Linked DNA regions of Homo sapiens. The protein of the gene in region 2 purifies or fractionates together with the protein of the main gene of each other region. This does not show direct contact. Each region holds a gene or a part of one and is shown on either strand. Other genes may lie near its edges.

What was found. The genes of interacting proteins can lie anywhere in the genome.
Region 1: the proteins of ZDHHC13 (region 2) and GDPD5 purify together in Homo sapiens (co-immunoprecipitation; one large-scale study listed by IntAct). This does not show direct contact.

What each region holds. Positions count from the first base shown.
Region 1 is NC_000011.10:75,442,442-75,445,941, forward strand, and holds part of GDPD5 (glycerophosphodiester phosphodiesterase domain-containing protein 5), read right to left. Parts: intron 2,055-3,500; coding exon 1,972-2,054; intron 846-1,971; coding exon 695-845; intron 141-694; coding exon 1-140. UniProt on the Homo sapiens protein: Glycerophosphodiester phosphodiesterase that promotes neurite formation and drives spinal motor neuron differentiation.
Region 2 is NC_000011.10:19,162,168-19,165,667, forward strand, and holds part of ZDHHC13 (palmitoyltransferase ZDHHC13), read left to right. Parts: intron 1-1,135; coding exon 1,136-1,260; intron 1,261-2,133; coding exon 2,134-2,196; intron 2,197-2,884; coding exon 2,885-2,978; exon of another isoform or gene 2,979-2,980; intron 2,981-3,500. UniProt on the Homo sapiens protein: Palmitoyltransferase that could catalyze the addition of palmitate onto various protein substrates. Palmitoyltransferase for HTT and GAD2. May play a role in Mg(2+) transport.

The sequences.
Region 1 (3,500 bases), about 56 Mb from region 2:
GGCGGGTCACGCAGGTTGAGCAGCAGTGTGGCATTGCCCTTGGCCAGCTCCAGGAGCTCTGCCAGGCTGCAGATGGACTGGTTCTGGGCCTCTCTGTGGTCGGAGGGTGACAGGGAGCTGGCTGTCCAGAAGGGGTCAGTCTGGCAGGGACAGGGACACACACATGGCTGCATCATCAGCCCTTTGGGGGCCCCCACATACCCTTCTGGCAACCAAGCGTGGAGACCCCTGGGCTGCCAGAGTCTGCTGGGGTCAGGCAGATTGATGGCTGTGGCCATGTGGAGGCTGTAGGAGGCCCCAGCCCTAACCTTTCTACCCCACACCCTGCTTACCAAGAGGACGGAGGACGGCTTGCTTGGAATCGCTCCCAGACCCACAGCATTTCTCCTTCTAGAGCATTTCAGATCAGAGAGCCAACCCCTCTCTAGAGTTTTACAGAGTTAAGAATTCTATTCACTGCTCTCATCCCTGTCAACCTTTTCTAGTGAGGGAAATGGACCCAGAACAAGCAGTGACAACCATGAGTCTGGCAGCAGTGGCAGGAGCCTAGGAGGCCACTAAGCAGCTTGGGTGGAGGTCGCGAAAGCTCTGAGAGTGGGGGTCTCGAAGCTGATGGCCACCCTTGCACCTCTCACTCCTTGCAGTCCCTGCTGGTGTTTTCCATGCCTAAGATTGGGATCAGGTGCAGCCAGACCTTCAGGAACCACTGGCCAGCGTTGAGTCTCTGCAGGGTGGTCCAGTTAAGCATGGAGGCAGGCCTGCGGGCCAGCTCCGGGAACTCCTCCTCCACGTTGGTGGTGCGCCGCAGGGTGGTGTCATGCATGAGGAAGGGCACGCCGTCCAGGCTGCAGGGAGGGTGGGGCCACCGAGTCAGTGACCCCCCAGATCCTTTACCTGCCCACCAATGATCGTCACCCCACACAGTCCTCCCCACCCAGCACAGGATCCCGGCTGGCTCTGCCCCTCTCTGGGCCTCAGTCTCCCCATCTGCACAGGGAAGACAGTGGGCTGGTGGGTGACCCTGAAGGTCCAATGCCTTCTGGCTCTCTGTGAGGGTCAGATGGGGGTGGGGACTGCCAAGGAGGGAGGGCTGGGAAAAATCTGGACCTACTCTCTTAGCAACCTTGGAAGGTAGGTGCTGCCTCATTTGACAATGGAGAAACTGAGGCTGAGAGAGGGAAGTATCTAGCTCAAGGTCCACAGCCTGTAAGTGGTGGAACCCAGTTTGGAACCAAATCCCTGTGATGCTATGATGAGAACAGTGCAAATGTAGACCTCTTTGGCAAATTCCACCCAACCCCAATCCTTGTCTACTCTACCAGGGTTGCAAATAGCTCATATGGTGCCTTAGTGTGAAACAGTAAAAGGTACCTGTGCCCTCTGTTCCTCAAGGCATTTTACCACCATCTGCTAGAAAGTTGTGATAAACACACAATTCTATGTCTATACTGGGAACAATGTCCTCATTTATGTGATGCCCTTGTTCAGTATGCAACCTGTACAACTATATATGACAGTTCTGCCCTTCTTCCCTTCTCAGATAACCTCTGTTATGAGATTAGTATGGATTCTTCCTGCCATTTATACTAATATCTACTTATATATGTACATGGAGAAAGTGTATATGTCACTTTTTTGTGGTATTTTAAAACGTAACTGGAGTCACAGTGAATGTATCACTCTGCAACTTGCTTTATTTCCCTCATGAGAGTGTTGTAGCTCTATCATCTATTTTTCCCTTCAAGTGGCTCTGTGGCAGTGCTCCTGCTTGCACCAAGAGCATTTGTTCTTTCCTCTATTTTACATCCTGGAGTCTGCAGGAACAGGGTGCCTGCCCTGCTGTGGATAATCTAAGTCTTCCTCCTCCCATCTCAGAGGCTCTGAGACCAGAGGTTCCCCCAGCAGAGACCCAGGTGGATGCCGAAGCGTGTGGGAGGGGTAGAGGAACTATCTCCCCTCCGCTACACCTACCTGATGGTAATGTCAGCCTGGAGCCCGTACAGCTTCTGCTCGAGGGCCTTCCGGAAGGACATGAGCGTGTGCTCTGGAGCCAGCTGGGGAAGAAGGGGTGGTGAAGGGAGAGCCAAGATTCAGCTGATGTACCCTCCCCAGCCAATGGAAAGTCTTTCATGTTGGGAGGCTGGGCTAGGCCTGGTTCTAATTCTGGCCCCTCCACAGAGTAGCTGTGTGACCCTGGGCACCCACTCAGCTTCTCTGAAGTTCAGCTTCCTCATCTATTAAATCATGCCTACCTCATTGGTTTTACTGGGGGCGGGGGAGGCAGGGCTGGTTAGTGTTGATGCATATAAATGCCTGACATGTAGCTAGCACTTGACACATGGTAGCTATGGTCACTATGTTATCATTGCTCTATCCCAGGCACTGAGCTAGACACTGGGGCTGGAGGGCTTTTTTACAGTCCTCTGTGGCTCTCTGGCAGTCTTGGGCTGGGGCTGAATGTGAAATTCAGGTTATACCCTTGGTTATACCAAGGGTTATACCCTGAGACAAGTCCAGGGGGGAGACCTGGAAGAGAGGGTAGATGGGATGGTAGAGTTTCAGTGCGGGACCAGTTTCCTCATCTATATAAACATGACAGCATTATTTCCCTCCCTGGACTGTTACGTGAATTAAAAGCCTCTAGCACACTGCTTGATATACACAGTAAGTGCTTAATAAATAGCAACTGTTTTCCCCTTACATGATCCTGGTTCTAGCATTTTTTTAAGAGACAAGGTCTTGCTGTCACCCAGGCTGTAGTGCAGTGACACAATCACAGCTCACAACAGCCTCAAACTCCTGGGCTCAAGCAATCTTCCCGCTTCAACTTCCCAAATAGCTGGGACTACAGGTGCATGCCACCACACCCAGCTCTGGTTCTAGCCTTGACTCTGCCATTAACTATTGTCCTGACTTTGGGTATATTTCTCTGTGGGTCTCAGTTTCCCCATGTGCCCCTTAGAGATGTGTACTCATGAGGGTCTTTATGCTTAGGACAGTTGGGATTCAAGCCTCCCTAGTTGGGTCTCATCTGAGGACTGTCATACCCGTTGCTGCCACTGGGGGTCAGCACCAAACCAAGGATTGGGCGAAGACCAGGTCCATGAGGGATGGTCGGAGGGAAGGAGGGAGGGAGGACACCCCCGATCCCCCTGCCCTGCTCTGTCAGTGAAGAGGTGAGGTGGGAAGGATTCCCATGGCTGATCTCATTCATTCCCACTGAAGACAATCCTGTTCCCACCTTCTCTCCCTCTGGCCACGATGTTCCCCAGCCACTCCCCTCTTTTGTGACACAGCCTAGCACTGGGGAGCCAGGGAGTGGTGAGGGCTTTGGAACGGACTAAAAAGGTGCAATTTCACTTCCCAGACACAGAGCTGGGGCCTCAGTTTCTTTAGCTGTAAAATGGGCTAACATTATCAACCTCACAGGTGAGATAACAAAAGTCACAGACCCTAGCCCAGGACCTGGCACACAGCAGGGTCTCAGTAATGAGTTTCTT
Region 2 (3,500 bases):
TATTGAACCAATGAGGGGATAAGCTTATGTAGGTTAGATCTAAAAGACAGCTACTGTGCAGATCTAAAGGATCTAATGAATGAAAATCAGTTGGTTGAAGTTATAGAAAGGCAAATTTTAGCTCCATATTGAGAGACTTAACTGCAAAAGTGTTACCAGCTTACTGGGAAGGCTGTGTGTCTATAAACTATAGTCCACATCTGAGTGCCTTAGATAAAGCATTCTTAAATTCAGGGAAGGGAGAGTATGATTCTCTCCAGGGAATCAGAAAAGATTGCAAGGAAGGAGGGAAAATATAAGTTAGGTTTTAATCGCAGTTAAGACTTGGATACCCTAAAAGTGTGGTTTTAGAAGAAAATGAGAGGAAGTAGGGGACATTTTAGGTCAGTGAACCACACAGGCAAGAGCACCAAAGCAAGGAGTGTCTTCAGCTTCTATGTGAGGTGATAGGGTGTAATTCACTTTACTTGGAGAGTGGTGATCCAATGATTCCCCTGCCATTTGTTTTGTAAGTTAATCAAAATAGGAGCCGAAAATTCAGTCAGCTCAGCGTGCAGGATCATTGCATTATGAAACTGAACGTATTTTTGAGAACTGAACGTATATATTTTGAGTCGTGTGTCGATCAGGATTTCATAAAGAAATTATGATGTGATTCTTTCACAAAGGATCTTGCCCTATGTACCTTTAATAGTGTCTTTCTGCAAACATGTATCTAATATATAGGGAAATACTTTTATTTGGAATCTCTGAATCAAGAGGGTTGTTTCTTTGAATGATTTTGTTAAAATGATCAAAGAATATTTTTCTAGATGCTCACAGGAGAGCCACAATTACACCATTAGAGATAAATTTATTTGGTCTTGAGTGTCACTTTTCAGGATGTTCCTCATAAGTTGCAACTATTCCTATCAAGTATTTAATATGAGCTTCAACTAATAAGGAAACATTAATTATTAGCCAAGTGGGAACAAATTCCAGTAGGATTAGAACATAGGATGGGAAGAGATTTAGGGGCAGGGACATGTGTGCATAAGGAAGGTGAGATTCTTAGGTGCCAATGATGAAATTTGCTTACATCATAATTACATTATTTTTAAAGGAAGTTTGGTGTATTCCTTAACTTGGCTTTAACATTTAGCAGGAGCCCCTTTCTATTTCAGTTTCATTTTCAGCATAGTAGCCTTTCTATACTTTTTCTATAAGACTTGGGCAACTGATCCAGGCTTCACTAAGGCTTCTGAAGAAGAAAAGAAAGTGGTGAGATTTCTTCGTTACTGATATTTTTAATAGGAGGGTTTGTAAACTTTAGAAAGTTTATATGCACATATGCAGATGTGTTGCTTTTTGTTACGGCTGCATGACATGTGGGGTGATATAGCAAAAATTAGATTTCCACTCTTACAGTTTTTTCATTTATGTATATGAAAGTTTTAACACATATTTTTATTTTCTGTTGAAATAATACCCCACCAAGACTTTTTCAGATGTGATTCCTTTTAGGAATATGATCTCCTACTTCCTTGTAATAACATTTTCATAATGGTCATTTAGCTTACATTTCCCCACTAAATAAATGGAGAGTAACTAGTCAGTGACCAGGGAGAGTCCTTCTGCTTATTGGCTGAGGAGATGCCCCTCCTCCTCCTCAAATGTGAAGTTGTCAGATGACATGGCATGTTTTCCGTTGCTCATGAATGTTTAGAAGTTGGAGAATGTTGTCTTTGTTACCTAAAGCCAGTGTTCCTGAAAGACCCAGCCCTTGGTGCTTGTAACTTTCAGTTTTGATGTATACTGGTGGGTTTTTCTTTTTTAATGTGTGTGTATATTTGCATATTTATTTTTCTCTAGCAGATCATAACTGGGAGATGATTGCCATTCACAGAGATGAGGTGATAGGTGGGAGTGGTGGGGTGGTATAATTTTTATGCATCCTAATTTATTAGCTGTTGGTTGAAAATGCAACCTTGAAGAGTCACATCATTTCAAGCACAGAATGATTTGGTGGCAAGTATTCCAAATTGCTTTTCTAACTACTTCAGTTTGGAGCGAGAACTGTGAGAATGGTGTATAACCATGCATAATACATTTTCCAATAAAATGTGGTAATAGGTCAAACTTCATGTCTTTCAGAATATCATCACCCTTGCAGAAACTGGCTCTCTGGACTTCAGAACATTTTGTACATCATGTCTTGTGAGTTTTTTCATATAATTTTTTTCCGTAGTGAAAGCAAAGTCTTGGTAACGTTGCTGATGTAAGCATTTGTCAGATCTTCATGGTATATTTATACACCTTTGTTTTTACCCATTTCTAATTTTACATTCCTGTCTGAACAGCTTTCTGTCTTGAACATATGGCAGAATGATGTTTATAATCTCTTGAAGTTGTCTCTGGTTACATCTCTCCGTGAATTATCCATTGTGTGTTTTATTTGCTTTTCTCTGTCATGAAGCATATATTAGAACTAACGTCAAATCAGAGGCTCATAATGACCTTAGAAACCACTTAGTGAAACCTCTCATTTTGCAATTGAGGAATCAAGGGAGGAAGTAAATTCTCCCAAATTATTGGTGGTGCTAAAAATGGAACTTGGGTTTCCTTCCCTTGGTTGAGTGCTTATTTTGCTCTGTGGTACTGCCTCATTTCTGCTTAGCCAGTGTGAACAGGCTCTGGAATTCAGATCCCACTTAGTGATGTCCTAATCAAAGTAGACATATGGAAGTAAATACTAATAAGGCATTCCACAGCCTCTGTGTGAATTGATGGTCTGTTTAGGATTTGTGCCAATGCCTCTGTGACCTAAAGTTAAAATTTTGCTTGTGATTTGTTACCACTTTGAGACACTGGTTTTTGCTTAGGCCTCTCTTAATTGCCCACTTAGATAAGGAAGCCATTAAGGTCACTCCACTGCCATGTATGCAACTGCTGTGTGGCTCGATATGATCAACACTGCCTGTGGACTGGACGGTGCATAGGTGAGAGATTTAATTTTTCAATTACTACTGTGAAGTTAAGCATATGTTTAGTTATGACTCACAGAAAAAGTGGAAGGGCATCCTAGGGCTCCATTTTCAATATTCTAGTATTCCAATAGCAATGGGCCCATGCATCGTTATTATGCTACAGGTAACATAATATTTGCACATGCATCATTCTGTTTGGTAGCCACAGGCCTGTGAAGTAGACAGAAAAAATATTATCTCCATATTACTTGTAAAAACGCTAGATCAGAGAAGTTAAAACACTTAACTTACAGTGACACAACTAGTAATACATAAGCCTAGGTCTCCTGATTCCAATGGGTGTTGTTCCTTCTGCCGGGTTTTGCTGCTCCAGGAGAAGGTCGGACCATGATGTAGTAGCTGAGGAGTATTTGTGTCATTAGCATTGAAATGCTCCCATCTCCAGCATTGAGAAGGCAGCGTGTGCAAGAGAAGACTTAGCTGCCTTGCCCTTCCCGCTTTCTTCCCTTCTGTAGAAGTTTCTCAGATTGTGGG